Regions from separate parts of the Homo sapiens genome. Here region 2 is linked to region 1. The links come from fine-mapping of genetic effects on gene expression. A gene starts in region 1. The other region holds a variant in brackets. All regions are shown on one strand. Distances are between the middles of the regions. Region 1 holds the start of SEMA3C (semaphorin 3C). Region 2 has its middle 27 kb from the start of SEMA3C.

Region 1 (16,171 bases):
AAAAGACAGTGCAAGGTATAGTGAATTTATGGAGATACATCCTGATAAATTTGCATAATGAAATGAGGAGAGTGTATAATAATTTTTTTCTACTGTTATCCATCTAAGCACTGACTTGCTCGCATAGGCACAAAGGGAGATCTCAGTTACAGCAACAAAATAAACATGTTCCAGAGAGGTAATTCCCCTCATCTTCACCTTGATGAATCATAAATTAAAGGGGGAATTTGGGATGATATAGGGAATGAATTTTATTTCATTTTCAGGCAGGTTTGATGTTCTAAGAGCAATGTAAAATTCTAGCATGACATAGTTAACATGATATGTTTACAGAATATCTTACTGAGAAAAATTCTTTTCCTTTTTCCTTTCATTGTGATCTTTGTGGATCTTAAAACTAATTCTCATGGCAGCTACAGAAATGGCTGCCACAAAGTCAGTATTAATGTTAGTGTTTAATTGCCAAAACTATTTTAGAAACAAAGAAGACAAAAAGTAGTATACACCTAGGAAGAATGCGAAAATGTATAACTTTGGTTCTAGATATATCTTCTGAATCAAAATTGCAAATAAAGGCTAAGTAACATCGTTTTATCAATATATGTGAACAACATATCAACATATATGATCAACATGTGAACAAATTTAAAATAAGCTATCTAGGATCACTTGCACCATCTTCATTTGATAAAGAGTTCAATTTAGTAAACATGTTTAGGCATGTCTATTAATTCATAGAATAGGACCTTTTTTTTTTTTTTTGAAAGAGAGTCTCACTCTCTTGCTCAGGCTGGAGTACAATGGCTCAGGCTGGAGTACAATGGCACGACCTCGACTCACTGCAAGCTCTGCCTCCCGAGTTTATGCCATTCTCCTGCCTCAGCCTCCCGAGTAGCTAGGACTACAGGTGGCCACCACCATGCCTGGCTAATTTTTTGTATTTTTAGTAGAGACGGGGTATCACCACGATAGCCAGCATGATCTTGATCTCCTGACCTCGTGATCCACCCGCCTTGGCCTCCCAAAGTGCTAGGATTACAGGCGTGAGCCCCCGTGCTCGACCACATTTTTTTTTAATGGAACCGCTGTGTTCGTATGACCGATTAACAAAACACTCAAGCTCACTCTTCTAACTTCAGAACACTAAAGCATTCCTTCTTTGCTCCCAATTGTAGGAACCTTGTAACTCTGAATGGCTTAACACAGAATATCATTTATTGGCAACAGAATCAAGCTTATTATAATCTGATGAAACTCACCTGGAACAGTAATTACTTTTTTAAACAGGAAAATATAGGCTTACACATTTTTCTAAAATTTTTTCTCTAGGAGAAATCCACAGCATATCAATGTAACACCTTTTATCCTAAAATTTTCAAGAGATGTTCTTTGCAATACCTGAAATAAAATTTCCTCCCTCCAATTCAAGTCTACTAGAAATATTATTTTATTTTGATTACCAGAGCCCTATATCAATACATATTACAGGGGAAAATAGACATACGAGGCTACATTTCTTAGCAATTCTTCTCATCTTCCATTGCAATTGTATTTTATAACAGTTTTTACCTTGCTGCTTTACAAATTTAGTGTTACTCTATTCTAGACTCATGTTTCAGGTAATGTCCAACTCACAAGTGAATTCATCAATCCTTTGCTGAGTTCAATTAAACTCTCACAAGGGGGAGAGTAGAAGGAACTTTTTATTCACAGAGCACCCCTTGAGTTTGGGTTTACTAAAACACTCATGTGTGCTTCAAGATATTTCAGTGACATTTAATTGAAACCATCATAAGGAGACTTAAAAGAAAATGCCATAACACACACCTGAGAACTAAATACTTCTCAGTAACACAAACCTGAGAAGATTCAATACACCCAGAGTAAGCATCTTCCAAGATTAACGGAGAAATCAAGAACAACTGCTTTTATTTTCATTTCTTGGGCAACCACAACAAAAACTATTTCAACAAACGTGCCTTGTAATGCTAATGCTACCAGAGCTCATAAAGAGGCAATTTATTATTTTCAGTTTATTGTCCAATAACAATTCATCAGCTTTGGGGCTTAGTTCATTAGTTCACAGGGATTCTTTTATTTGTTGAGGGTGATTTTAAAAGATGTTTTATAAAATTCCATAGTCTTTCATTTACATACTATCAAAGACCTGGAGACTTTGGCAGCTTTATTACTAAAAATTCAGCACACACAAAAGGGAAAATGAATCACAAAGTAAATAAATAAAACAGGGCCAGGCGCAGTGGCTCACGCCTGTAATGTCAACAATTTGGGAGGCTGAGACAGGCGGATCACCTGAAGTCAGGAGTTCGAGACCAGCCGGGCCAACGTGGTGAAACCCTGTCTCTACTAAAAGTACAAAAATTAGCTGGGCATGGTGTCGCACACCTGTAATCCCAGCTACTCGGGAGGCTGAGGCAGGACAATTGCTTGAACCCAGGAGGTGGAGGTTGCAGTGAGCCAAGATCTCACCATTGCACTCCAGCCTGGGAGGCAGAGCGAGACTCTGTCTCAAAAAAAAGGAAAAGAAAAAACAGGTAATCCTATGCAAGTCTAGTGCTTAGTCATAAAATACCTATTTCCAATTCAAAACTCACACTCAGTTTTCTGTTTTTAAACCACTGTCATGCATATGCAAATGTAAATTCAGCCATGGGCTGCAAGATTGGCCAATATTAACTAAGGAAAAACTTATACTAAAAGCATTTGTGTGAACCTTATATTCACTTGCAAAGCTATTTGGCATAAAATAAGAGTTAGACCAATTACAAAAGAAAATATTAGAAGTCACAGGTCTCAACATAGAAGATTTAAGTAGCACAAATGTAACTAATTAATAACATCTGAAGTACATTCTCCCACAGGACTGATGACCATCTGGTTGACCTTGCCCTAGATCAACAGGGAAGGCAAACCTGTAAATCACTGTTTTACAAATGTTATTACTCCATTATTTCACCACAAGAAAAAGGGATGGAACATGAATGGGAGAAGAGACTCATTGCTCTACACACCTTGAAATTGCCTATGATGCTTATTGCACCGGAAGTAACACAAGACTGAGTGGTTTCTTCTCAAGTTCCACCCAGAGAGAGACAGGCAGAGGACCAAGTTACAGTGATGGAGAAGAATTCAAGACAAAAGAGCCAGTAGGTAAAGTAATTACGAGAGAATCTAAAGGTACTTAGAGATATAAAACAAGTAATGCAAATGACCTCTGTCTAATACAACTTGAAACTATCTGAATTTCTGCAAAACACCTTTCAGTTGCTGATTTTTTATTGGAAAACAGTAATAGAACTTTAGAAATACGAACTAGAAGTATATGCCACATGTATTTAAATATATACTCTTAAATACATTAACCCCATACAAAGCTCTATATTTTGATGTTGAGAATAAACTACTTTGGAGGAAACTTAAAAACCTACTTGGTACAATAGTCAATGAGTCATCATTTGACTAATGAGAAACTTTAAATAATAATAAATTTGAACAGGCATTTCAAGCAGGTACACTGTGAAATCTCCTAAGAAAACTGTATTGAACCAAGGTTTAAAATTTGTACATTTTGACAACTGTTTTCGCCTGATACTTTCCCTATAACTTGTCTATGTAGTTCATTGTAGGAATGTTTAAAATTATTGAGTTACCAATCGTGCAATTTTATTAGATGTATTCTCACTGTTGATACATCTCTTTTAAACAGTATTCAAAACAAGTGATTTTCTATCTCTCTGATTATTTGCTCTGTTTTTCTCTCACTTCCTAAGAGTACCAGTAATACACCTGAGAAGAACAAAATATCAGGAATTATAGAACTTTGAGATCAACAACTCATGTCATATTCTACATAAGTTACAAATCAAGGCAAGTCTTATTCTGCAAGAATCTGTTTTAAGTTTGAGTGCATTTAAAATATTAGGCATATATTATTTTAAATCCCATCATTACTTCTAGTCACTGTATAGCATAGCTGTCACTGTCTTACACAGTTCTGAAGTCTGGTTCTAAAAGATTATACTATGTAATTTCCTTCTGTAAAATATGAATTGCAATTGCTTTTTCAAATACAGAATTGGTTCATTATCTCTAGTAACACACTTTTTGTTGATATTTACATTAGTTTGGATTAATTTTCATGTAATGGAAAAGAAAGCAGGTAGAGACATCTAATCTATTAGGTCACTCCATCTCTATATATACTAGGAGAAATATAGAAAATAGAGGGGAAATTGCACTACTTCTTAATGCCCTTTCTCTTTTATTTGAAAACGTATTTCATAGTTCTAACTTGGGAGGAAAAGTGTGGGTAGTCTGTAAGATGCTTTAGTAATTAAGGGGCTAAAAAGGATACCTCAAAGGGTCTGTTTTTCCATTCTTCACAACTTAACTGCATAGCTATGGGTTTTAAGGGGAAATGCCTTGCATGGAGGCTAAGGAAGCAATTAGAAGCTCACACATTCTAAGTTCCAAATATGGCTCCTTCGGTGCTTATGACAACCTTGGGGAAAGCACTGGTGACTTAAAAAGAAAAAAAGGACAGCCATTTGACTGGCAAGTGTCAGTCATTCTGCTATTTGAAATTTGAGGCCAGGCGTGGTGGCTCACCTCGGGAGGCGGAGGCGGGCAGATCACAAGGTCAGGAGATCGAGACCATCCTGGCCAACATGGTGAAACTCCGTCTCTACTAAAAATACAAAAATTAGCTCGGTGTGGTGGCACGCACCTGTAATCCCAGCTACTGGGTAGGCTGAGGAAGGAGAATGGCTTGAACCTGGGAGGTGGAGACTGCAGTGAGCCGAGATCGTGTCACTGCACTCCAACCTGGTGACAGCGTGAGACACTGTCTCAAAAAAAAAAAAAAAAAAAGGAATTTGAGACAAAGTTTCAGAGACACTCTGCTATAGAAAGGTCTGAGAATATATTGTTTATCAAATGAAAGAAAAAGTACTTGCAATGACACTAAAGTTTATGCAGAGTTGAAAGAAGTAATAAAATTATAAATGACCTTGATTGGCAGGATGGTGTTCCTCATCCATGTCTTGCTCCATCTGTCCAATTAGTATGGGTTACTTGACTAACCAAATTCATTCATCTGTAAGTCCTTTGAACTATATACATTAAAGCTCATGCAAACCATTCCCTCAGAAGACCTTGCACCTTTTATGTATGTGAAAATCTGAAATCACACCCATTTCCCTAAGCTTCTGAGAACATTTGTATACAACAACCATCAAAAGCATATTTCCAATTATTCTTTTAGGTCCTTTTCAATTAATTAGGGGACTATGCCAATCTCAGGAAATCCTTGTGGAAAAAGAAGAAACACCATTAGAACAACACACGGAGTAACCAGTTTTGAGACTAATGCCCAAAAAATTAATTGGGAGAATTTTTTAGTAATTGAACCTGCATAGCTCTCTCTGCTGCTGAGGATTAGCACAAAGGGGCAATTTCTTAACATTACCAGGTGAACAGTAAGATCAAAGATGCTAGGCTTTGAGCTCGTGCCCATCTCCTCTGTGAGTACACAGGCAAGCACAGAAGAATTATTTTACAAAAAGCAGCATATATTATAAGCATTTTCATAAATACCTCAAATCCAACAGAGGATCTTTGTCTATTAACCAATCATTTAAAATAGCTATTGTCCTCCAAAACGCAGCCCAGTAAATATTTTTAAAATTAATATCCAGTAATATTTATACTCTTAATTTCTGAATCTGGATAAGGAAGATAACAAAACTTAAAATAACATTTTTCCCAGAGTGTTTATCAACTCTCTTACCATCAAATGTTAAATAAACTCTTGCTTGGGGCTGGGAAGATCCTTTCACACAGATAGAACAAATAAATACTCCAACCAACACGCAAATTGTCCGGAATGCCATTTCTTCAGATATGCAAGTTAATATCCAAGGGAAAATACCTTTAAGAGAGAGACAACATGTTTGTTATATCTCATTTCACATTTTAGGAGTAGGAAAAAACAGCAATCTAGACAAAACACCCTATTCACAAAAGAACCATCTGAACTTTTACAGTAATGCAAACAGTAGGAGGTGCTGTGTCTTTGCTTCTCAGATGTGAAAATGTGGATTTGATTCATTTGTGTCTGGAAGTCTTTGCAACAAGAGAAACTTTCATCTTCCAGCAAATTGATGCTACCATCAAAACAGAACAAAGCAGTGAAGAAAAACACTGATACCCAAAGGAAAGCCCAATATTTTAACGGATCTTCTCTCTAGAAATCCATTACATTAAAAAGACTTGAATAGAATTGAGCTAAAAGAATATTACTGGATGAGAACTCTTTCCCCCCACTAACGTAACAGCAGCAGCAAAATCTCACATGAGCATTCATGTGTACCTACTCACTTCAATAGTCATTAGCTCTTTTGGAGTAATTGTCTCTGGAAGTGGTGTTTCCTTACATAAATCTATGTGTGCTCAATCCTGGATCACTGAAGTCACTGGAATCAGTTATCTGCCATTTTATCCAGATGACCAACAGGCAGTTGTTAAATGATGCAGTTGAAGTAACCATGGACTAGTGCCAAATTCAAACCAATGACCTAGTGGTGAGCAATCCAGTGAGCCATGTATCCACCAATGCATATTTTAAATAAATCAACCAGAATGTGGGCTGTCAAAATTCCCAAAGATAAATCAAAGAGACAGGTGTCACTGCTTCAAACTATAGATATAAAATTGGTACATGCTATTAACTAATATCTGAATCCCAAGGAAGACCAGATAATGTGTTACCATAAACCTACAGGAGCTCTAGTGGCTACATCATGTAAAATAAACTCAGGACCATTAAAGAAACACAATCATTTTGCTTCTACCATAATTACACAATAAAGTGACCCAAGAGTCCAGTAAAGAAATTTATTTTTACAGGTTACAACAATGCTGATCTTCATTATTTGGCTTTTCAAATTAAAATTTCATAGTCAAAATTATTAAATTCTTTGTAAGAACCACTAACAACTGAAAAAGACAGCTTCATTAATACAGAATAAAAAGAATTAAATGGAATATGCAATTTTAAACAAAAATTGTAAGTAGATTTCCTAGGTGGTGCATATGTTATGAGAGTTAGAAATGAAATTGTACGCTTCTTTTACCACACAGATGGAGGAAACTCTAGAGATGTTTGTGTTGGTAATTTTCAAAAGAAACAGTTTCTTCCTGCTTCCACAACCTCTTCACCCTGTCATCCCTAAATTAACTTAGAAAGAAACTGATTTTATGGGTGACTTTCCCTCAGTAATTTACCCCTTGGTTCTGTTGACTTCATAGTTAAAGCCAAAAGAAAAAAACTATTAATATGCCTAACCTTTGTTATGTTTACTGAGCAAGTTGATATTATTTACACATTTTTTTTACATATTGGTATCTTACCTTATATGTTTCTCCCAAAAGTACATATACAACCAATTGCAAAGAATACTGGTGATACAATGGCAGGTGAAACGAAGATAGTCTACAGGGCAATTTGATTTACATCCCACCTAGTGATGAGGAGTGAAAGACTGAAAGCCAAGTGTCTTAAATACACCCCCGCCTCCCCAACAGTATCTTACAACTTCTTCCCTTTAACTCAGACACAGACGTTCCTCTTGGTGTTTTCACTTCTGCTGATCGCAAACTAACAACACATTAAGAAAAGAATTCTCTTATCTCCTCTGGAGCAATTTTGCCTTTGAAGGCACTGTAATACTCAACTTGAAACTCTCCGCAGGTGTCACCGCCTAAAGAAACAACTCGAGCAGGGCTCTCAGCAAGGGGAAAGCTTCCCTGACAAACCGCGTGTGTTCTTAAGAAAATGTCCAGGCTTGAGCATACCAATGTATGAAAAATCAATATACAGGCCAAAAAAGTTATACTTTGCTAAATCTGTAATGCGGAAAATGACCAATTTAGCTTACCGAGGTTGAAAGAAATCAGCACGGAAAAGTCATCAGTTTGCTACCGGGGTTGGATGCGCTTGTGTCTCCAGTCCTTTTCCCAGACGACCTTATTTTCTAGCACGTCGCAAAGGTGAAATTCTTTCTTCCCGGTCCTCTGAGTTTCTTTGTAAAGGAATCTCAGCGCTGCAGTGCCGCGGCACCCGGAGCTCTTCTCCGCGTCGCTCAATCAAGCACCTCGGAGTGAATGGAAAGTGGCCGGAGGCCGGGGGCGAGCGCTCTTGGTGTCCGATTACAGCGCCGCGGCGCGCGGCTCCGGCTGCCCCGGCGCGCCGCCCTGCAGGCTCGCATCACCACCGCGCAGCCCCGGCCGCATCTCCGCCAGCCGCGAGGCCCCACCCCGAGCGCGCCCGCGAGAGCCTGGCAGGGAGCCGCGGGGGCGGACCGGGCGGGGCCGACCCTTAGAGCTCGCGGCTGGCCAGACGCAAGAATGCGCGGCCGCAGGCTGGAGCCCTAGCTCCGCAACCCTGCTCCTTTCGCAGTCCGCGGCGGAGTGAGCAACTTGCTGGGTGCGCTCCACGGTTTTTGTTGCCGGCGGCTCTCGAAGACTTACACAGGCTTTGCCTGGCCGTAAATATCAAAGTGCAAAGCAGTTGTGGTTTTTTATTTTTGCCAGGGAAGGATCACTGCAGCCTTTTAAGGCAAAGAGATGCGTTTTTAAAAGGACGTGAGTTTTGTCCTTATTCTGCTGCGTTTTTTTTTTGTTTTTTGTTTTTTGTTTTTTGTTTTGTTTTTGGAGAGGGAATCTCACTCTGTCGCCAGGCTGGAGTGCAGTGCAGTGGTGTGATCATGGCTCACTGCAACCTCCGCCTCCCGGGTTCAAGCGATTCTCCTGCCTCAGCCTCCTGAATAGCTGGGACTACAGGCTCCCACCACCACGCCCAGCTAATTTTTGTATTTTTAGTAGAGACAGGGCCAGGATGGTCTGGATCTCTTGACCTAATGGTCCGCCCGCCTCAGCCGCCCAAAGTGCCGAGAGCCACCGCGCCGGGCCTCTGTTGCGTGTTTTCTAAAACAGGTCAAGATAAACGACAATCTTGTTGCACAAGTGTATCCTTTTAATGGGTATTGTTTCCTATTGAGTTTCCTTAATGCCCTGAAAGCAGTAATTCTGTTGACCCCTCCACGTTGACTCATATCCAGTACGTTGTCCCCAACCATACTCCCAAACATAATTACACGAAGAAATTATTTGACAATTCTATGTGGAGAGGCTGTTCTGAGTTATGCCAACAGATTGCCATAACCACACATCTACAGAAATACATCAGAGGTATTTTTCCAGCATTACTTTCAGGTACACTCGTTAAACTCTGGAACTGACTTTGATGTTTAAGTGAAAATTACTTCTCCGGACCACAATAAACTAGATGTTTAAACATCGGGAGAAATGAGCTTTGATCCCCATAAAACAAGCAGGCACTTGCTTAAAATCACTGTGGGGCACAGCCCAGCAGATGTCACTCTACAGAAGGAACGTGGAGTGTAATATCTCCACCTTATACCTGACAATTCACATAATGAAACAATCATTAAATTCTTATAAACTGTATCATAGAAAACCCCTCTGGGGGTGCAAAATCATTGTTCAGTGGGAAAGTTGAATGAAATCTCAGGTAGGAGGAAGAGGTGAGTGAGACACATCTTTCATGTGTCTGGGGCCCACCTCTTGTGTTCAGTAAACATACACGTGTCTCAGACTCACGCTGCATAGTCAAGGAACGAAGGATCAAGTCAAATAATGCAAATTTATGAGTTCAAAAATACTATTCCAGGGCTAATATTATCTCCAAACGTCAAAAAATTAATATAGTAACAACAGTTAAAATTATTTTTTGTGATGATGCGTGAGAAGATCCTTGACATAAATTTGTAATAAGGAATTTAACCCCCCAAAAACTGACAATATTAAAATCCAGATGTCAATGTGAATAAGCACTGTGCGTGCTTCTCTGAAATACTTCTGAAACTGAGTAAGATCCAGGTTATATACTCTCCACTATTATCCTCCTTCTGATATCTCATTCGGCATTTATATATTAAGCAGGGAGAAGAATAAATCATTAGAAAGATGAGTGTGTGGATTAAATTAATTTAGAAATGTGGAGCTGTTAGAAATTGATCAGCAAATTCACGTAAGATGGAATTCGTTTATACATTTTAAGTTTGAGAAAACCACGATAAAGAGTTGCAAGATGAAATGCATCTCAAACGGTGTATTTACAAAGGAGCTTAATTCCAAACTCAATTTACAAACACCAATGAATTAGCTCAATCTGTTACACATTCAGGGGTTTGGAGGCCTTGACAAATAGCTTAGATTTAATCACAGCCCATGAAATTTGTGCCGAAATTCCCTCAATATTGCTCAAATAAACCTCTTTTCAATGTGCTCCTGGGATTTAATGGTATTTGCTTAGCTCTGAGACGTTTACAGTTGGCCACACCTCAAAATGAATCATAAAAATACTGATAGGCTTTAGCCAAGATAGATTCAAGCGCAAGGACACAGTGCTCATGCTTGCCAGAGACTTAGGCCACAGAGTGGAATTTTAACAGTGGCACTAGAAGCCCCTAAGATTAATCTCTGCCCACATTTCCCCACACTGCTTAAAACACCTTGACAAAACAAGACTTGCCTAAGAAACATTTCTGGGCACTACCACTTTTTTAAGACTTCAGCTTTGACTGTCCTTACAAGTGGAAAACAACAGCTAATTGAGAACGCTGTTTTCGGTAAGGGGGACACTAAATGGATCTACAGGAGTAGTGGCACAACTAAATTTAGAGAGCACTAATTACAATGTTTGCACCCAGCAAAACGTTTCAGACGAGCGGCCAAACTAAAATACTTAGGATAACTTTTATTAAGACGTTTTAGAAATGGTGCAGTATCTTACACACTGAAGTGTCTCTGCCTGCCAAGGTGTAGTGGGCATATTTTTAATATTTTATGTTTTTGATGGTCCTGAGGAATGCTATTTAACTTAAAACTCTAGCACCGATGTTGAGTTACATACTTTTCTCCAGGAGTTTCTGCAGCTATACATTATCTTATTTCAAATTTAAAGAAAACAGATTTTTCCCTATTATACAGATGAGTCATGTAAATAAACTTTACCCTAACCAGAGAATATTAATCATTCAGAGGTTAAAAATTGTCTTATTATTTAGTCATAAAAACTGATATTTGTAATAGAAAATAGATTGTGTATTTGCGAGGTACTTTGCTTATTATCTGCATAGCATTCTTTAATGAAGTTACAATTTTCAATGAGAGAACGTTGAAGGTTTGCCCAAAGTCAAATGGGTAGTAAATATCAGAATAGGAAGAGAAACTCAAGCGTGATTGCCGTAATGTCTCAGGTTTTTCAATAAGTTTCAATACTTCCTCTTACCTTTTTTGCTTAACATTTTTCTCCTCTTTTCTACTTCCCTCTCTTTCTCCTTCACTCAACTTCCATATGCCATCCTTTTAAGTTTCCTGAACTGTATCTTTGGAAAGTCTCAACTTCCAATGGTTACTTACTTTATTTACATCAGCCTTACGTCTCCTTGGGTTACATTAGCAGCTCTGAGACCAAGCCGGTCAAACAGGTCTGGTCTAGAAATCTGTGTGTGAAACTGCTACCTGCACAGCAAATAGGCTTTAATATTTCCTCTATCAAATCATTTCTAATTTTTCAATAAGATGAGTGTATCTCTATTTTCATTCTTAATCTATTGCTAATCTGTATTGCTGACTGTTTTTTCTCTGTTGATATGTACCACTCTATGCTTCTCAAATTGTAGGGTTCTTGACATTAAACAAAATAAACTGGCAACAGTGGTTTGCTCTGGAGAGGAAAATTGGCTAGAAAGGTTTCATGGTTCACTCTGTTTTACATTTATAATTTTAAACGAGGTGAGTGTATAAGCTATTACAAAGTTCAAAGTTTAAGTCCTCAGTATTTCCTTAAACACCTTTAAACATATCAAGTATGTTAAGCGCAATATTTCGCAACTCAACCAAAATAAAAGCATATTGCCTCTAATGTTTATATATTACAATATTTCATGTAAAAGTAGAATAGTAAAGAATTTCAGTAGTAAGAATCCCTTAGTGAATTTACTTCCTTAGTACAAAAATGTCATGTGTGCATGACAAAGGTTGTAATAGAGTTATTATGATCATTCACATTTTCATCACAAGGACAAAATGTAAACTTTCTATTTGTTTTGCCTTCTTGGAATATTTCATGTGAAGCCTCAGTGAGGACAGAGTATATGTATTTGAGATTATATACAACTGCAGTTGCAGAGAATCCCACAGTTAATGTTTGCTAGTGGAGTATATGCACACCCATCCACAGTCACGTCTTGAGGAAAGCCAGCAGCTTTTATGAATCATATTGGATCTGAAGCTCTCTGTCTCTACACCTGGAAGACCAAAACCACTTCCCATATCTGTTCTCACAGGAGAGCCATAAGAGGCCTGCATAAGTGCCTCTGATTGTCAGACGCATGTAATGAGGCTCAAAAATAATAACCAGCTGGAGCAATGAATGCAGGACTGTTAGTTACGGCTAATTGACTCCCATCTACAGCCCTTCGAAATGGGCAAGGGCCTTTCCATGTAATCTTCAGATTTTACTATTGTTATCCTCTTCTTGGACTTTAAATGGTTGACTAGAAAGTGGAGTATTAAATTGTGCAAAGAACTTTCACATCCTAGCAGATGCATTCTCATAATGAAAGTCACATGAGAAATCCTGCTGTCTTCTCTAACAGTGATTTCCAGGAGGTAGAGGGGGCTGTGTAGGAAATTTGCAAAGAATCAACCACTTATTCAGTTTATTTGATTTATTTTTAGTCATGAGGCTTTGAAATTTTTTTCACTTTTAAGTTCAGGGGTACATGTGCAGGTTTGTTATATAGGTAAATTAATGTTAGAGGTGTTTGTTGTACAGGTTATTTCATCACCCAAGTACTAAGCTTAGTATCCATTAGTTGTTTTTCCTGATCCTCTCCCTCCCCACGTCCTCCCCTCTCTGATAGGCCCCAGTGTGTGTTGTTCCCCTCTATGTGTCCATGTGTTCTCATTATTTGTGGCATTTAATAACTTTAAAGAAGGATATAGAATTTTCATTATTCAACAAATATGACATAATTTAAGATATAAAGCTCTTGGAATATATTTCAATTAAATAGTTTTCCTTGATCAATTTTCTTCACTGCAATGGACTCGTTGAACTTTAGACCAGAGATGTACTAGAAGGAGCAACATGATTTAAAGGGCATGCATTATTAATAGACATTTGAGGAAGTGTATTTCTTTCATCTCCCTAACAGCCCTGAAAAAGAAGATATAAGTACCTCCATCATGCAAACAAGGAAGCCAGTCAGAAATTTGAGGTGCTTTCCCCTACTTTGGTCCCTAGGCAATAAATTCAGGTCTGCCTGTCCCACAGTCCATGTGTTTCCTGCTTTCTACCACCTCTTGGCAAACACATCTAATCAAAAGCTCAGTAAATAAGAAACGGGAGTGGAGACTTTTACTTTCCTCCTAGGCTCTTTAGGTCCTGAAGAAGGTTTTCTGTTTTACTTGGATGTTTATCACATTACATTTCAGATTTGAATGATAAATACAGACATTGTATCTTCACTCAAATTATAGACAGCTCGAGAGCAGAAACAGTGTCTAATTCTCCTTAGTATCCTTTAGAATACGAAGAACCAAGATGATTAATGAACAGCTTTGGCAGATAAATGGAGAAGGGGTTCAAGGAATATGGGTAGAAGCAAAGAGAGAATCAACAGCAAATTGACCACGTAAATGATTACACATTATAAAACAGAAAATCATACAAGTTATTTTATTACCCATCCAAGTACATTTATAGTTATATAAATTAAATCTATTCTCTTTAAATATCTAGTTTGTTACTCATGTAAATACAGTAAATGAAAACCCAGAAACAAATTTGCACAGTGGATTCAAGACTAAGTAACAGGAAGTTCATCAATATCAAGTGTAATTTTAAAATTAAAAGTCGCAGGTAACCTGTTTGCAAATTGTCACCAGGGTTACTGAAGTCTTTTGTTCATGTACTGAAGGATAAAGTTGCAGCTTATTTCCATGGCTCATACAGTCTCTTTCCACTGCTTGGGTCAAGGTTAATTCTTCACTCCTTCTCGCTCATTCCTTCCCCTGGCACCTTAAATTCTGTGTGTATCTGATGTCCTACCTGACCGTTGTTTGACTACACTATTCCTCCTCACACTTCCGTGGCTTTGCAAATGCTCCTCTATCTTTAATACATCCTCTCTATAGTATAATCCTTTTTTTTAATCCTAAGCAAAATTAATCAAGTCCTAGATGTCATATATAGAGTTGTAACTATATCAATTTTGATGTCAAATAAATTTACATGTAAATCACCAATTCCTAACCTACTAACTATATATGTTGGGTATTGTTTGATTTCCACTTCTAGTGTTGTTATTTGTAAAATGAGAATTAAAGCAACTACCTTTAGGTTTATTGGTTAAAAACTATAATGTGTTAGTTAAATACTACAATGTGTGTGAACACCTCTCTCACTTTTGTATTGTCTTAAGTTTTTCAGGTATATCATTTCATGTTACAATTATGTGAAAATTTTCTCCATTGACTCCCAACAGCTCCAGAGTAGGACATAGGAATCTTAGACATTGTAGCCAGCTAAAGCCAAGTCTTGCCACATGGTGACAGCTGAATAAATGGTTGATCAATTAATTAAACTGATCTTTTCTTTTAATGATGATTTGAGGACCTTGAAGATCCAAATATCTTATCGTCACTGAGACTGTGGCATTTCAACACATGTGATTTCTTATAGGATTCTTAAGTAATCACTTTCCAAGGTTCATAATTTTACTCCAAAGGTAATTATGTTTGTATTATCCCCTTTAGACCACATTTAAATTTTATTTTGAGTCTGTAAAAACTTTGGGAACATTTGAACTGGTTTGATTCTTGATAATCAGCTGCTACAGGAACAGGTGGTTTGGATTAATTCTTTTTTTTTTTTTTTTTTGAGACAGGGTCTTGCCTAGGCTGGAGGACACTGGTGTGATCATAGCTAACTTAAGTGCAGCCTCAACCTCTAGGGCTCAAGCAATTCTCCCACCTTAGCCTCCTGAGTAGCTAAGACTACAGGCATGCACCACCATGCCCAGGTATTTTTTGTGAGACAGTGTCTCCTCATGTTGCTCAGGCTGGTGTCCAACTCCTGCTGGGCTCAAGTGATCCTCTTGCCTATGCCTTCCAAAGTTCTGAGATTACAGGCACCAGCCACCGTGCCCAGCCTTAAATTCTCTTTTAAGTTTTAAAAATTAAGATTCAGAAATTACGTTTTTAATTTTCTGGTAACAGATTAGAATAAGATTCCCTCAAGATCGTATCACAGTAAAAATAAAAAGAAAATATGATTACAAAGAAACTAGTAGCAATTCCTGGCATAGAAAGGAAAAAAGTTTTCTAGTACATAAATTCAATATAAATTTATTTTTTCTCATGTTTCATTGTGGATTTCTTCTACTAAAGTCTCAATTTAAGGCAACAAAAACATAATTCTTTAAAACCTAAATTACCTAATTGTATTTTTATATTTTCATCTATTCTGTAAGTTTCCAGCTCAAGTTTTTTCTTTATTTTTTAGGTAGATAGCATTTAAAATAATCCATATATAAGAATCTGGAGTTACCTAATGCATATATAATAACATTGTGTTCAGAATTGGTTCCTTCTAGTGGGTTCTCGGTCTCACTGACTTCAAGAATGAAGCTGCGGACCCTCACAATGAGTGTTACAGTTCTTAAAGATGGTGTGCCCGGAGTTTGTTCCTTCAGATGTTCAGATGTGTCCAGAGTTTCTTCCTTCTGGTGGGTTTGTGGTCTTGCTGACTTTAGGAGTGAAGCTGCAGACCTTCTCAGTGAGTGTTACAGCTCTTAAAGATGGCACATCCAGAATTATTTGTTCCTCCTGGTGGGTTCGTGGTTATGAAGATCTTCACAGCTCATAAAGGTACTGTGGATCCAAAGAGTGAGCAGCAGCAAGATTTATTGCGAAAAGCAAGAGAACAAACAACAATGCTTCCACAGTGTGGAAGGGTGGCTTGGGTGGCCTGCTTTTATTCCCTTATTTGGCCCCA
Region 2 (16,171 bases), 27 kb after region 1:
TGTTGGAACTACTTATTGTAAAAACCTAGCCATCTTTATTTCTGCATGTAACATAAAAAATTAAAAGCAAATACATTAAAGAAGATAATTTATAATCATGTATTTTGGTTATAATTAATGTAATTTTATACAAATTATAAATAGATACTTTCCTTAAACCAAAAGATTTCTTTAATTTTTCTTCTCAGAGGAACCAGTATTATCTTCTCTAAAACAGTTTTCTACTTGATTAAACTAAAATCTGGTAAAACCACCTTTTATCTCTAAATAATCTGCAATATTTAGAATTCTAGAATTAGAAAGGATCTTTAAGATGATTTTGTCTAATTTATTCATTATACCTATAGAAACTGAGGCTCAGAATAGTTGGTGATTGTTAGGGAATCAAAATTAATAGGCAGCAGAATCTCAAAGAGAACCGGTACCTGTTGGTCACCAGACCAGGGCTCTTTCAGTTGTTACTTTATGTCCACCACACTTCTATACCTTAGAGAATCAGATTGCCATTCTTCATTGGTTCAGAGAACTGATATGAATGAGTACATGTAGCAAAAGCTATTGTCATTTATCATTGTACAGGAATTTGTGAAGTCCTGGCATTATAGAATGAGAAGCATCTAGGAGGCTAGCTAATCTAATGCATCTGTACCCTAATACTGTGTATGTAATGTATATTACATAGGCATATGTATATGATTAGCTAATCTAATGCATCTGTACCCTAATACTGTGTATGTTATGTATATTACATAGGCATATGTATATTACATATAAATTACATATGTTATGTATATGTAATTACATACATAATTACATTATGTATATTACATATGTTATGTATATTACATATGTATATGTGTGTACCTATGTAATATACATATATTACACATATATATATCTCTGTATGACTTTTTTATTCCCGTTTGTATACCATATATATTTTTTAATCTTGACTTTTTCATTAAATTCAAACTATAGAGTGCTTATCATGTAAAAGATGCTTGGCACTTTACATATATTACCTAATTTCATTTTCACAATAATCCTGAGAAGTTTTCTTATGCCCAATTATACACCGTGAAACAATGTTAAGAAAAAGTTTCTGAAAGAGTGAACATTTCACTTCATATCCCACAGAGCGAGGATTCAAATTCAAGTCTGTCTTTCTCCACAATAGCTTGTATTGTTAACCATAATTTTCTCTGGCTTTTCACACTACTGTTCTTCAAAACTGCCATGCTTGTTCTCACTTTAGAGTCTTCAACCTAACGAGTCTATCTAGGAATGCTCTGCCTTCCATCCTGCCATGATTCACACCTTCTACAAATTGAGATCGCAGCTGACATATCAGTTCTTCAGAGAGTTGTTTCTTGTTCATTTTTTTATTCATCATCTATCTATATTACCTATTATCTATCTATCTATCTATCTATCTATCTATCTATCTTCTACTGTCCTTTCTCTCTACTAGAATGCAAATTTCATAAATGTGTTTCCTTTACCACTATAATATCCATTAGTCCAATACCTGGCATGGATTAGCTCTTGAAAAGTATGACTTGAATTAATTAATTGATTTACACAATTTACATACAGACTGTCCAGCATTTTCTACTTTGTTATCATCTTATCATAGGTGTCAACAATTTAAAAAAAAATAATTTTTTCAGTTATAGCATATTATTTAGTTCAGGGGATGCATTATAATTTATTTAATCTTGCTCTATTTCTAAATTTTTAAAATATTTGCTTTCAACTTTTTGTTACTCTACGTTAAAGTTTCTCAACTGTGCACTACTGACATGTTGGTCCAAAACGTTTTTGTTGTTGAAGGGGGGTGTGAGACTATTCTGTGCACTGTGGGTTGTATAGCAACATTTCTAGTCTTTTTTTTTTTTTTTCGAGACAGAGTCTCGCACTGTCGCCCAGGCTCGAGTGCAGTGGGCCGATCTCGGCTCACTGCAAGCTCCGCCTCCCGGGTTCACGCCATTCTCCTGCCTCAGCCTCCCGAGTAGCTGGGACTACAGGCACCCGCCACCACGCCAGGCTAATTTTTTTTTTTTTGTATTTTTAGTAGAGACGGGGTTTCACCGTGTTAGCCAGGATGGTCCCAATCTCCTGACCTCGTGATCCGCCCACCTCGGCCTCCCAAAGTGCTGGGATTACAGGCGTGAGCCGCCGCGCCCGGCCAACATTTCTAGTCTTTATGCACTAGCTGCTAGTAACTTCCCATCCCTGAGCTGTGAAAACAAAAAATGTCTCTAGATATGGCCAAATGTCCATTAGGGAACAAAATCACCCCCAGTTGGGGACCACATCTCTAAATTATGCTGCAATAAATACCTTTAGGTGTAAGGTTCTTTCCATATTTAAAGGTATTTCTAAGGGTTAAAATCTCAGACTCATTTTATAGATGGAAAATCAGAGGCTTAAAGAGTAAATTACTTTGCCTAAGGCTATACACTTGTGAGGTAGAAAAGTTGGAATTTTATCCTCAGTCAGTATGAAGTCAGGGCCTTGTGTTTCAGCACTATGTTTCAGGACCCCTAAATAAAGGTCCCATATACTATGGTGCCAGACAATAGTATCTCAATTCTTGATTCCCCCTTTACCCTATTTCCCCTCCTTTCTTTAAGGATTTCTTTGCTCCATCCTGCCTTCCAGTAACCTTTCATTTTTATCTCTCTTGGAGATTCATCTTTTCCCTGTCTCCTCATTTTACTCACCCCTCCCTTTGTTGTAGGTTTAGTACAAGCTGACCCTGAGCCAAGGATGTATGTGTAACCAATTTATTAAGGAAATTCCTCTAGGGCATGCAGGTTAGGGAGTTGGAAAAAGCAGAAGAAAGAAGGGAAGTAAGCCAAGCAATAGTGCAGGTGCAGAGGCATGCATCCTGTAGAGAAGAACTTTAGCCTGACTTTTCAGGGAGCTCTGGAGTGTGTGTCACACCTTAGAGTTGCCCCAACTAGAGGCAAGAGAGCTGTTTTCATAGCATCATACACTCTTGTGTCATTGTTATAGGATAGGAGAGAGAATATACACGAAACATTTAACATCCCTCCCTCCACACACAGAAATAACAAAAAAGGATAATAAGGGATTTGTGAAGAGCTCCCATATTGCTCACCACATACTTCTCAGTTATTGTGTTATCGCCACCATGAAATTTGCCATCTGCTGTTTTCTGTTGCTGTAACTGCTCTGCTAGGTCCCAGCTAATAAATAAGGAACACTGAAGCTGAATATAAATAATGGTTCTGGGAACCAAAGTTCTGAGACAGTCTCCTTATAGACCTCTTCGGTTTTTAACCCAAAAGGAAAAAAATGCAGGGTGCTCATGTGTGTGGAAATTCATTAACACTTTAAGAGATCTCTGGATCAAAAGTAACCTCTTAGGGAATGTGCATTTCAAGGCCCTGTCTTACCCCAAACTGGAATTTTTGGCCCGAGGAAAATAGCAAATTATCTCACTTAGGGACAGCTGGTGTCCTCACGGAGGTTTAAATTTAACTTAGCAGCTAGAAGCTAGTCATCTTTAGATTCAGAAATACGAATTCATTGCAATAAGGAGTTCACCAAGGGCAGGCCGAAAGGACAAAGCAAAGACAAGTACAGTCTTATTTCAGTGCCATAAAGGAATTGTCATATGAGCCTTGACACACAAATTCCACAACTGAAGATCATGCAACTATTGCCCAATAAATTTAAACAGAGTGATTGCACTTAGCCTTAATTGTCCAGTTTCTGTTTTTGAAAAAAAGGCAATGAGTAACACAATGTTTCATAACCAGGAAAGAAGTTTTTGAATTTCTTTATATCACAGATAGTGAACACAATCTAAAAATAAATATTAAATAATCAAAATCCCAATGTAAAATATATATCTATCTGTATATATTATCACATGGAGGGAAAATTTGCACCACTAATATAAATGCTATTTATTAGGCATTGCTTTTCTATAGATTTTCATCCACTCTTTCATTCTTCTGCTCTATTCCTTGGTCACCTTCCTTCCATCTCTTTTCTTTCCCCTTTTTTCCATCTTCAATTTAGTGTTTGTTTCTTAAGAAACAAGTTTACATATTTCTTAGTTCTCTGTCAACAGAACCTTTCTCACTTTTCAACTGCAAAAATCAAGGTATTTTTCTAAAGAATCCATCAAAATAGGAGTTCTAATGTCCACTGATTAAATAATAATTCTTCGCAAGGTGCTTCAAATGCATTGACATATTTGAGAAAGCTATTGCAGACAGATAGCAAATTTATTCCCCTCTTAATATGTTAGTACTAACAAACAACTCAAGTCAGTTTGTACAATCAGATTGCTATTTAGAAGTTTCAGTTCTAACTAAAAGGCTGTTTTTCATCTTCACCAAACACTGGCTAGTCAGCAACTCCTGCCAGCATTCTCATAGCTGCCCCAGACAGCCAGTTGCAGGAACTCTGGCTGAGTCATGTCTCTGCTCAGCTACTCAGTAATGAAATATCCCTAGGGACATTCCTAAGACATGTCAGAGATGTGTTTCTAGTCTCCACCTATTTCTTTGTCGTGCCCCAAGCTGTGCCCACATTAGTGGAATTTCCAGTGCATTGCCATGCTCAGTAGGCCAAAGAGAAAAGTCTGCAGAATTGCTACTTAATATTACTTAATAAATCAGTAACAGAAGCAATGAATGGAATGGAATGCAAAATTCTTGGCTCTTAGCCTTAGATAGAACCACTTCCTTCCTATGAGCAAATAGTGGTTCATAGGTTAGCTTGGGGAGGGCTACTTCAAAGGGATAGTGTCTAAGTAGTCAATTTTGCTTGAATAAATTATGGAAAATACAGTTTTCAAGAGGAGAGGCTATGCTACTTTTTTCCCTTTTGGAATACTGGGTATATCCTAGGTAATAGAGAGTCAGTGAACAAATCTTTGCTGATGCTAATAGTTAAACAAAATGATTCAAATAGTTACTGAGCAAACATTTGCTGATTAAATAACATAATGATTCATATATGAAATGCGTTAGTTAGGTTCTACATATACTGTATCATTTCCTTTCAACCAGTATTTTCTATTTGTCCCAGAATAGCCTCCAAAAGAAAATTGCTGCTGGCAATTTAAAAAGACAACCATCTAAAAAAAAGTAACAAGTTGACCGGGCGCCGTGGCTCACGCCTGTAATCCCAGCACTTTGAGAGGCCGAGGCGGGCAGATCACGAGGTCAGGAGATCGAGACCATCCTGGCTAACGCTGTGAAACCCTGTCTCTACTAAAAAAATATAAAAAATTAGCCAGAGCGAGACTCTGTCTCAAAAAAAAAAAAAAGTAACAGACGGTAGAGGCAGTCAAATGTAGAGAACGCAGAAGCAACTCTTCTTTTAGTCCCTATTTATTAATAACCCTTTCTGGACCAAAACAAAAGAACAGTAATGGACAAATTTTCTTGCAGATTCAAGAAAACTGCTTCATATCACTATTATCTAATTATCTTCATCAAGTTGCCACACTACTGTTCTAAAATGTCTCTTTGATCCAAGCACTCCATGTGCTCCCCACTGTCAATGTCCCAATGCTACAGAATCTGCTTCCTTCCAACCTTTTACCTGCTACCCACTGGGTTGATGCTCCTGGACTCATGACCAGATCTTATCTTCACATATGGCAAACATCGCTGTTGGATAAACACTTTCTGCAGAGATTTCCTTTTGAGACATGTATCTAGGTGGCCATGGGTTGCAAAAATTGGTGAAAAAGTTAAAATCTATTTGCTCTACTAACTGTGGTCAATTGCTGATGTAATAAATAACATAATGATTCATATATGAAATGTGTTAATTAGGTTCTACAATACTGTATCATATCCTTTGAACGAATATTCTTTTTTAGTCCCAGGATAGCCTCCAAAAGAAAATTGCTGCTGGCAATTTGAAATAACAGGCATCTTAGAAAAATAACAAGTTAATAAATATAATAAAGAGATGGTAGAGGCAGTCAATGTAGAGAATGCAGAAGCAACTCTCCTTTTAGTCCGTATTTTATTAATAGTCCCTTCTGGACCAAAACAAAAGAACAGTAATGGACAAATTTGCTTGCAGATTCAAGAAAAGTTAATTAATCCTTAATCCTTAATTTAGTTCATGCTTCAAAATACCGACAATGTTTCTTTTCAAAAAAAAAAAACCAATCTGAACAATCTGAGTATTCCACTTCCCTATTTAAATCTTGCACAGTTCCCTATTTTACAGAGGATAAAAGGTAAACTTACCATGGTAAAATGGCTTTCCAATGGGACCTTAACCAGTCCCTTCCTCTGCCTGTCTCATTATGGGATCCAGTCTCGATGGGCTCTAAATCACTCATTGTTCTCAACACGTGGCTCCCTCTCAAGCATCTATGTCTTTGCATTTGCTCTTCCCTTTACCTAGTATAACTTTCTCTCACGCACTGCCACTTTTTCTCAGTTGCAGGATTTGTCTGAATGGGGACTATGAAGATATTTTTATTTTACTTGTTTTGTATAGTCCACTGAACTCTGAGCTCTTTGAAGACAAAAATCATAATTTATTTATTTTGTTAACATTGAATGTAAAGTGTAAGCAAAAGTCATTGAGGACCCTAAGCAAATTGGCATCAAGGAGGAAACAGAATGGACACTTAAGAAAGAGCATTACAGGACCTTACAACTGCTAGTTAAGTATTGGCTAGAGTATTAAAGAGAAACATGTCCTGCTACCCCAGCTTACCAAATGGGCATCACTTTTTCAGTCTGCTGAGATGCGATGACAGTCGCAGACCCACCTGGGGATATCCTGGCTATTAATTATACTTAGTGCAGAGTTCAAAAAGGACTCAGAACCATCAGGCGATTAAAGGATGTAGATTATGGATATAATTTTAGAAGAAAACAAAGCCACTTGAGTCATTCTCCTAATAAAGCAAATTCTGTTAGAAGGGGTAACACATTAAGCAGCATGTTGGTATGTACTTATGTACGTATGTATGTATGTATGTATGTATTTATTTGAGATGGAGTCTCGCTCTGTCACCCAGGCTGGAGTGCAGTGGCGCAATCTCGGCTCACTGCAAGCTCCGCCTCCCGGGTTCATGCCATTCTCCTGCCTCAGCCTCACGAGCAGCTGGGACTACAGGCGCCCGCCACCACGCCCGGCTAATTTTTTGTATTTTTAGTAGAGACGGGGTTTCACCGTGTTAGCCAGGATGGTCTCCATCTCCTGACCTCATGATCCTCCCACCTTGGCCTCCTAAAGTGCTGGGATTACAGGCATGAGCCACTGCGCCCGGCCTATTTATTATTTCTTTAACAAATGTTTATTTATGACGTTCTCTGTGTAAAATATTGTAGTAGGTAGAGGTGACAACAGATTGATATAATCTTTTATGGAGCTTACATTCTGAAGACAAAGAAAAACAATAAATAACAAACATGTAATAACATAAATTACAAATAATAGGTTGATTATTTAATTATAATCTGAGACTTGGGGTGAAAAAAGCATAGAATGGAGAAATATAATCTAAACTTTGGGGTCAGGCAAATTCCTATGGGGAAATGATATTTATGATATGAGGATGGAAGGTGTTACTAAGGTGAAGAGGGGATGGTAGAGAATTCCCGGGGTTTAGGGTATAACCTGTGCAAATGCCCCATGGTTGCATGGTGTAGAATACATTCAAGGAAGAATTTTGAAAACGTTGAATTCATTAGATTTTCTGGCTACAGAATTATAGCTTGGATATGAATAATGCTGATGTGAGGAGTCCGGTTAGCATGTGAGAAGTGAAAATATTTGAAATACATTGGCATAAAATTAACAGGACTTGATGCTAGATTGGATATCAAATTTAAATGAGAACTAGGGAGATGTTGAAGCCC[C/G]TCTCTGCCAATGGAACACAGGAGAGGGCCGTGAGAATATCATACTTTCAGTTCTAGAGACACTAAATGTGATGTAGCTATGGGATGTCTGGGTAGAGCTGTCAAATGGGCAGGTGGTTATCAGTGTGGAGCTCAGATGACAGTTATAGTACTGAGGCTTCTATTTTAGAGTCTTCCATATATATAGGGTAAATGAAATCATTGGAGAAGACAATAAAGCCCAGGTAAAATATGTGGAGTGGTAAGGGAAGAAGGCCTAGGAGAGAGCCCTGAGGAATTCCGACATTTAAAAGTTTAATAAAGCAGAAGTGTCAGCTAGTCAGACTGAAAGTGAGTGTGAAGTCATTTGCCAGCTGGAACAGTTAGCAAGCTAGAGATTTTAAAAGACAAAGTACTTTTGCAAAGAGAAAATTATCCAAGCAAAAGGATTGGATAATTTCTTGGCAATAAAAGTTTTCGAAGGTCCAACAAGTCTTTTTTTCACATTCAAGTAATGTAAGTAAAGTTTAGAAAAAATTATTAGTAGATATCTAATAGTTGTAAAATTGAGATTGGTTCAAATGCAACAAAATCTAATATGGATGGATATTGTATGATTTTTTTTTTTCTGACTAGAAGCAAAAACATTTGCCTAGTGAATTGTTCATATGAATAATATTGTATTATTGGAAAAGTAATGTAAAAATAAGTGCCTAAGATCATCTGATAAATTTAAAAAGTTAGAAAGTGAGCCTTGGAATAAAAAAAGCAATTTATCCCCAGGATAAAATCTCTCAGCTAAAAATCAAATATCTATGCGAAACATCAACATTTTGACACTCTCCATTGTCTTTAATTTTGTTGTAGCAAATATCTAAAATCATCTCATTTACCTAAAAATGAGTTGGCATTTAAATTTGCCTTCCTATAATCTTCTTCTGAGAGCATCGTGATGTGTGGTCTTGGAACTCCCTGCAAGAGCAGTGAGCTGATGTTGGTAAGCATGTGTAAAGCAAATTTTATTTTATACAAAATTAACATGTGACGAAGCACAGGCCAGAATTTTAAAAAATATTTTTATATCAGAATTTAATTATGTATTTTAGAAAGTAGCTTACTAAAATCCAATTTTCAACCCAGTGAATTACTTTACAATAAAAAAAATACTCTTTGAGAATTAAATTTTCCTTTGTGGAAACAAGTCAAATGGCCTGAAGGTGTGGCATTGTCATTACTGTCTATTAGTACCATAGGAAAAGAGATTTAGACTGGAAAGTAAACTTGGCATTCATAAATCACTCTACAGCAAAATCAAATATCTTGGACTTCTGGAAAGCATTTGCAGTAATTCTTGAAACAGAGCACAATACAAGATCAGGGCAGACAGGACAAATGAATTTTCCCCAAGTCAACAGTTAAGAGGGCTTCTGAAATATTCAAGCAATGGGAAAAGACAACATTTGCTCTCAGAATCATGATTATATTATTGTTAAACCTTTCGGCCGGGCACAGTGGCTCACACCTGTAATCCCAGCACTTTGGGAGGCCGAGGTGGGCAGCTCACGAGGTCAGAAGTTCGAGACCAGCCTGGCCAACACGGTGAAACCCTGTCTCCACTAAAAATACAAAGAATGAGCCGAACATAGTGGCACACTCCTGTAATCCCAGCTACTTGGAAGGCTGAGGCAGGAGAATTGCTTGAACCCTGGAGGTGGAGGTTGCGGTGAGCGGAGATCATACCATTGCACTCCAGCCTGGTGACAGAGTGAGACTCCGTCTCAAAAAACAAAGCAAAACAAACAAACAAAAAACAAACAAACCTTTCATATTATAGTACATGGTTTAAATACTGGAGAGCCAGGGTGTTCCAGAAATTGACTTCTCTTCTAGAAGAATTAGCACGTGATGTATACTTAGAAGAATGGGGATTTCTATAGCCAGAGAATGACAGTAAGGCTGTACTGTCTGATAAAAGACATAAAGGATCATATAAAAATGAATGTGGATTGGAGGAAGCAGTTAGTATTACGGTCTGCCTAGAGCATTGGGTACCTAAAAGGAAGTATCAAGTAGGTAGGGTGAAATAGCAGCACAGGAGACATCTGTTGTTTGGCTTGTCTAACATTGACAGTGTCTAACATTTCCCCTCCTTCTGAGAAAAGCCATTGCTTCTTTCAATGGACTGCTTCCCATTTCACTCCAAATACATGGTTTTATTTGGGGCTGCCAAATATGATATGTCACCTAACTCTCAATCCCATCCGTCCTTACCATGAGAATGGGCAGGTGGCCCTTGCTCGGCTAATAGGAATTCTTCTCTAGGACTTTTGTTTTTAAATTGAAACAAAGGGCAGCCACTTGTCTTTTCTGCAGTTTGCTCATTGGAATAGAATAGTCTCCTCTTCCCTGCAACACAAACACATCCATATCTTAATCCATGAAGTCTGTGAATTTGTTAGGTTACATGGCAAGGGAAAAATAAGGTAGTAGATGTGATTAAGTTTGCTATTCTGCTCACTTTAAAACAGGGAGATTATCCTGGATTTAAAAAAAAGAAAAGAAAAGAAAAAAAACAAAGTAAAAAGAAAAGTGTTACCTTATTCCCATATTATCAAATGACTATTTGTACTCTAGAGGTTGTGCCATTTTTCTAGAGAAGCATCAGCTTTAAGACCCAACACAAAGGGCCTAACAGACACTTGTGCACAATTACACATATAAATTAATTCCATCAAAAAGAAAGACACACAAGCACACACACACACAGACACACACATGCATGGAGAGAGAGAAGAAGGCAGAAAGAATGGAAGAAAGAGAAGAATGGAAGAAGGGAGGAAGAAAGGAAGAGAGGGAGGGAGGAGAGAAGAAAGTTTCTGTGGTAGATTCCTACTTAGGACCAAAGACAGTCACTTTGATTATTCTTTCCAATACAATCCAATTTTACAATTAAGTTTGTTTTTTAAATTATTAATTCTGCATTAACATTCAACAATGATGATTATTCTGTTACTCTCTACTACTGTTATAAAGTTGGCTATATTCAGGCTGTTTTAATTGTTTTAATCTACCAATCTAACTGCAAACATTTTCCAAATAGATTAATTCACTCTCTTAACTTTTACATGTCTGCAGAAGTCTAATAAAATATATATAGTATTCTGTAAGTTGATTTCTTATTTTTTTAAAAAGGCATGAATTTGATCTTGTACTACTACTTTCCTGCTGCTCTCTTTGCTTTTCAAGCTTCTACTAACGGTGCTATTATCTGACTTTCTTTTGTAGATAAATTAATCCAATCATAAAATGTATTCAAATTATGATCCTTGAGAAAATTGCTTTCAACCCATCCAGCTTCTAGGGCCTTACATATTTGAGAAATTAGGAGGATTTATTAGAGCTCCTCTGCTTTATGGGTGGACTTGGTATTACTATAATATCTTTTCCTGTATTTTGGGTGACTTTTCACTCACAGCCGTGTGTATATGTGTGTGTGTGTGTGTGTGTGTGTGTTAAGAGACACAAAGACAGAGGCAGAGAAGGACAGAGAGAGATTAAATGGAGAATATCCTTTCTTTCATACTAAAGCAGTTGTTTCATATTCTTAATTTTAGAGCAACATGGCCGATGCTTACATTATCCACTTGGGTAGGAACCTCAAACCTGCATACGTACCTGCAGAATCTGAAGCAATCTAATGACTTCCACAGTGATTTCTGGGAATGTCCTCACCTACATGGTTCTAGCACCCCCTCCCTTTATGTACAATAGGCACAGCAAATGGTAATTTAGAGAATACATTACTTAAGAAGAGAAATTGCCTCTCAATCTGAAAGACATCATTTAAGCAACACAACGAAGGAGTAACTCAATGAGTGCTACTCATTTTTTGATTGGCAGTAGGCTGTCAGATCTGTATAGGCAAGGTTCCTCAAGAATAACCTATAATTTAGCCTTCTCCTCTAATAATAAATGGTTCAGTTTCCCTGTATCTCTACTTTCTAAAAACATTCTTCTACCCAAACCATGCATAAAGCTCATGTAATGGCAGTGTCAAAACATTAGACCATTGAACTCAGGAACCTTGAGAAACTATATGGTCTTCCAGTAATTTAGAATTTTAGTTTCCCATTCTCCTTCGCATCTTGTACTTCCTTGCTCAGATTTTCTTCCTTTGGTCTTCTTGTTAATACAGGCATCAATATACCATGTTTTCTTAGTCCTGAGACATAAGCTTTATATTTTTAAATATTTATTAATTTGGGATGCATAGTATAATCAATATGACATTTACATAGTACATATTTTTCCTTGAATACTGTTCTCAAGTCAAGGGTGTCTCTACAATGGAGAATATCTTAGAATTGAGGAAACGTGCTAATTAATGTCTAGCTGTTATAAGGATTAAATAAGTTAGTCTATGTAAAGAACTTAGAATAATACTTAGCAGATAAGAGTCACTCAAGTAATCTCAGGCATTATTATCATAAACATCATCATTATTACCTTAGGCAGAATAGTACATTTGTCAGGAGCATAGTTTCTGAAGCTAGACAGACCTGAGTTCAAATTTCACTCTGCTATTTATTACCTTGGGGGTCCTGGCATATTATATGAATTCTCTAAACCTTGGTTTTCTCTTATTAAAAATGAAGACTGACATTTGAAAAAGTAGTGAGACTGAATGAGAACAGCAGTTTTTACAAGCTTAGCGTAGTACTTGGATCAGAGCAAAATCTTAGTTGAGGAACTATCGATTGCTTCCAATTAGCTGTAGCCAATTATTAGAGCATTTATCTCTCTGAATCCTAGGCTATGCTCACAGGACTGGCTTTTGCCACTAGGTATTTTCAGGAATGAAGAAACAAGAACGAGCTGAATGTATCTGGATGTGTCTGGTCCTGGCTTGCAGCCCTTTTCTTAAATCCAGTATCACTACTTGTGGTTTTAAACTTGATGACATCTCTGGGCCTAAAATGATAGATGATCACAACTTTGTTGCTGCTGTGGTTTAGAGAAAGGGATAAAAACCATGATAGGACATCCTGATGGTGACCTTGGGCACGAGTTTTAGCAGAGTCATGCAGTGACCCTTTGGTGTCCCTCTGTGTAGAGGTCTCAGTTTGGTGTGTGATTCCAAGTGTTTCTATTACTGTCACATAATTGGCAGGTGGTGTAGGGGAAATTGTGGGGGAAGTTACTAGCATACAGAGCAGACTTGTACTGGCCTTGTAGAAATGATTGTTAAATTTTCAGGAGTTTTGCAAGCCAGTTATTAAATACAATCATTATTAAAATTAAATTATATAAATTTACAATTAATTATATTAAAAGCAAAGGTAATGTAAATCCCAAACTCCTCACTTCCTAATTATTCTACTATGTATTACTATAGCCTATGCTTTTGTGACTATTTAAATCTATTGTCTCCATATAGTGAAAATGCCCTCCAATGGTGTGCTACTGAGTGTAGCTTTTCAACTCTGTTCATTGATAGCATGTCCATAGCTTTAAATCAGCAATGGTGGGAGTATATACTACAAAATAGAAATCTATCTCCCTGAGCTGGTTCTTAAACATGTACCAGTAAACCACTTGAATTAGAATAGAGTTGGGTACATTGGACTATAGTGGAAATGGTTTTTAAGCAGTTATTTACTAGATTTCCCTGAATGCATTTGATGTCAAAGTAGTGACAGGTTTAAAACTGTGTGTTTGTGAGTATATGTATGTGAGTATGTCTTTCTGTTTTTACAAGACAAACTACTGAGTTTAGGGTGAGGACAGGTCATGTTCAGTAGGACATGATTCTCAACTATTCAGTATTTTGATAGCCATTTACTAAATGTTACTAAACAGTTAGTAAACTATTGGCATGCCAACAGTTGAAATTGTCTATGATGTGAGAATATTTGTACTACAATTTAAAGTGAATTTTGTTTCTTAAGAATTGGTTTATCAATACTCTGCCTAAAATCCTTATCTTTGCCCAAAGCTCCAACAAAATATTACCTGATTTATCATTGTATTTAGTAATTTTGGGGTTGTTCTTATTCAACTCTTTTTTTTTAAATTATACTTTAAGTTCTAGGGTACATGTGCACAACGTGCAGGTTTGTTACATATGTATACATGAGCCACGTTGGTTTGCTGCACCCATTAACTTGTCATTTACATTAGGTATCTCTCCTAATGCTATCCCTCCCCAAGACAGGTCCCAGTGTGTGATGTTTCCCACCTTGTGTCCAAGTGTTCTCATTCTTCAAGTCCCACATGTGAGTGAGAACATGTGATATTTGGTTTTCTGTCCTTGTGATAGTTTACTCAGAATGATGGTTTCCAGCTTCATCCATGTCACTACAAAGGACATGAACTCATCCTTTTTTGTGGATGCATAGTATTCCATGGTGTATATGTGCCACATTTTCTTAATCCAGTCTATCATTGATGGACATTTGGGTTGGTTCCAAGTCTTTGCTATTGTGAATAGTGCCACAATTAACATACGTGTGGGTGTGTATTTATAGTAACAGGATTTATAATCCTTTGGGTATATACCAGTAATGGGATGGCTGGGTCAAATGGTATTTCTAGTTCTAGACCCTTGAGGAATCACCACACTGTCTTCCACAATAGTTGAACTAGTTTACAGTCCCACCAACAGTGTAAAAGTGTTCCTATTTCTCCACATCCTCTCCAGCACCTGTTGTTTCCTGACTTTTTAATGAACGCCATTCTAACTGGCATGAGATGGTATCTCATTGTGGTTTTGATTTGCATTTCTCTGATGACCAGTGATGATGAGCATTTTTTCATGTGTCTGTTGGCTGCATAAATGACTTCTTTTGAGAAGTGTCTGTTCATATCCTTTGCCCACTTTTTGATGGGGTTGTTTGATTATTTTCTTGTAAATTTGTTTAAGTTCTTTGTAGATTCTGCATATTAGCCCTTTGTCAGATGGGTAAATTGCAAAAATTTTCTCCCATTCTGTAGGTTGCCTATTCATTTTGATGGTAGTTTCTTTTGCTGTGCAGAAGCTCTTTAGTTTAATTAGATCCCATTTGTCTATTTTGGCTTTTGTTGTCATTGCTTTTGTTGTTTTAGTCATGAAGTCCTTGTCCATGCCTGTGTCCTGAATGGTATTGCCTAGGTTTTCTTCTAGGGTTTTTATGGTTTTATAGACCAATGGAACAGAACAGAGGCCTCAGAAATAACACCACACATCTACAACCATCCGATCTTTGACAAACCTGACAAAAACAAGAAATGGGGAAAGGATTCCCTATTTAATAAATTGTGCTGGGAAAACTGGCTAGCCATATGTAGAAAGCTGAAACTGGATTCCTTCCTTACACCTTATACAAAAATTAATTCAAGATGTATTAAAGACTTATTCAACTCATATAATATTTAGTCTCATTCTGAGTGATACAGGGGTATACTTTCTGCTAAACTTTCAGAAAATGCAATAAAACTAAACACAGGCCAGGCGCGGTGGCTCACACCTGTAATCTCAGCACTTTGGGAGGCTGAGGCGGGCGGATCATGAGGTCAGGAGTTCGAGAGCAGCCTGGCCAATGTGGTGAAACTCCATGTCTACTAAAAATACAAAAATTAGTGAGGTGTGATGGTGTGCGCCTGTAGACCCAGTTACTGGGGAGGCTGAGGCAGAAGAATCGCTTGAACCCAGGAGGCGGAGGGTGCAGTGAGCCAAGATCATGCCACTGCCCTCCAGCCTGGGCAACCAGAGCGAGACTGTCTCAAAAAAAAAAAAACTAAACACAAAACAGTAAAATATGTTTTGACTCAATACATGTACTGTACACAAAGCAATTTTATATAGCTTTTCTGTTTCTAAAATGTTATTCTCTAAATTCCTCTAGCATTTATTTCATATGAATTCTGTCTGTTATCACGTACCCGAAAACATACGGGAATCGCTTTCATTTTGGTAATAGTTTTAGTCAATGAATATCTTTCTTCAGTAAGAGTCAAAAGGTACAATAAAATGTTTTTGCTCAATTTCTACACACTAATACTAAATCTGCATCTTATGGCACTTAAAACAGAACTCTTTACTTTCTAATATATATGCATAAATATCAAATTCTAGAAAATAATAAGTGCTCATAAATTGATAACTGGAAATTTTTGCTTCCTTTTATGTGTTTGGTTTGGGTAATTAATGGATGATTACATTAACTTGGGGGAATCTAAATTTCATTCATTCATGACCAGCCTAGATATGAAAACTAGCTTATCCTCCTTTAATTATTACTCATTTATCACACTCAATATGCTAAAATAAG

What was found.
Region 2: its variant is fine-mapped to the expression of SEMA3C in whole blood (TOPMed, PIP 0.98).

What each region holds. Positions count from the first base shown.
Region 1 is chr7:80,910,870-80,927,040 of GRCh38, forward strand. SEMA3C (semaphorin 3C) reads right to left here and starts at 8,182. Exons shown (of 18, transcript NM_006379.5): 1 at 7,959-8,182; 2 at 5,810-5,950. The coding sequence starts at 5,912. RefSeq lists an enhancer at 7,702-7,771 and a silencer at 8,319-8,448.
Region 2 is chr7:80,937,905-80,954,075 of GRCh38, forward strand. No RefSeq gene overlaps it. Among named protein-coding and RNA genes, the nearest start is that of SEMA3C, 27 kb to the left of the region's middle. The variant C/G (reference allele first, on the strand shown) is at 7,884.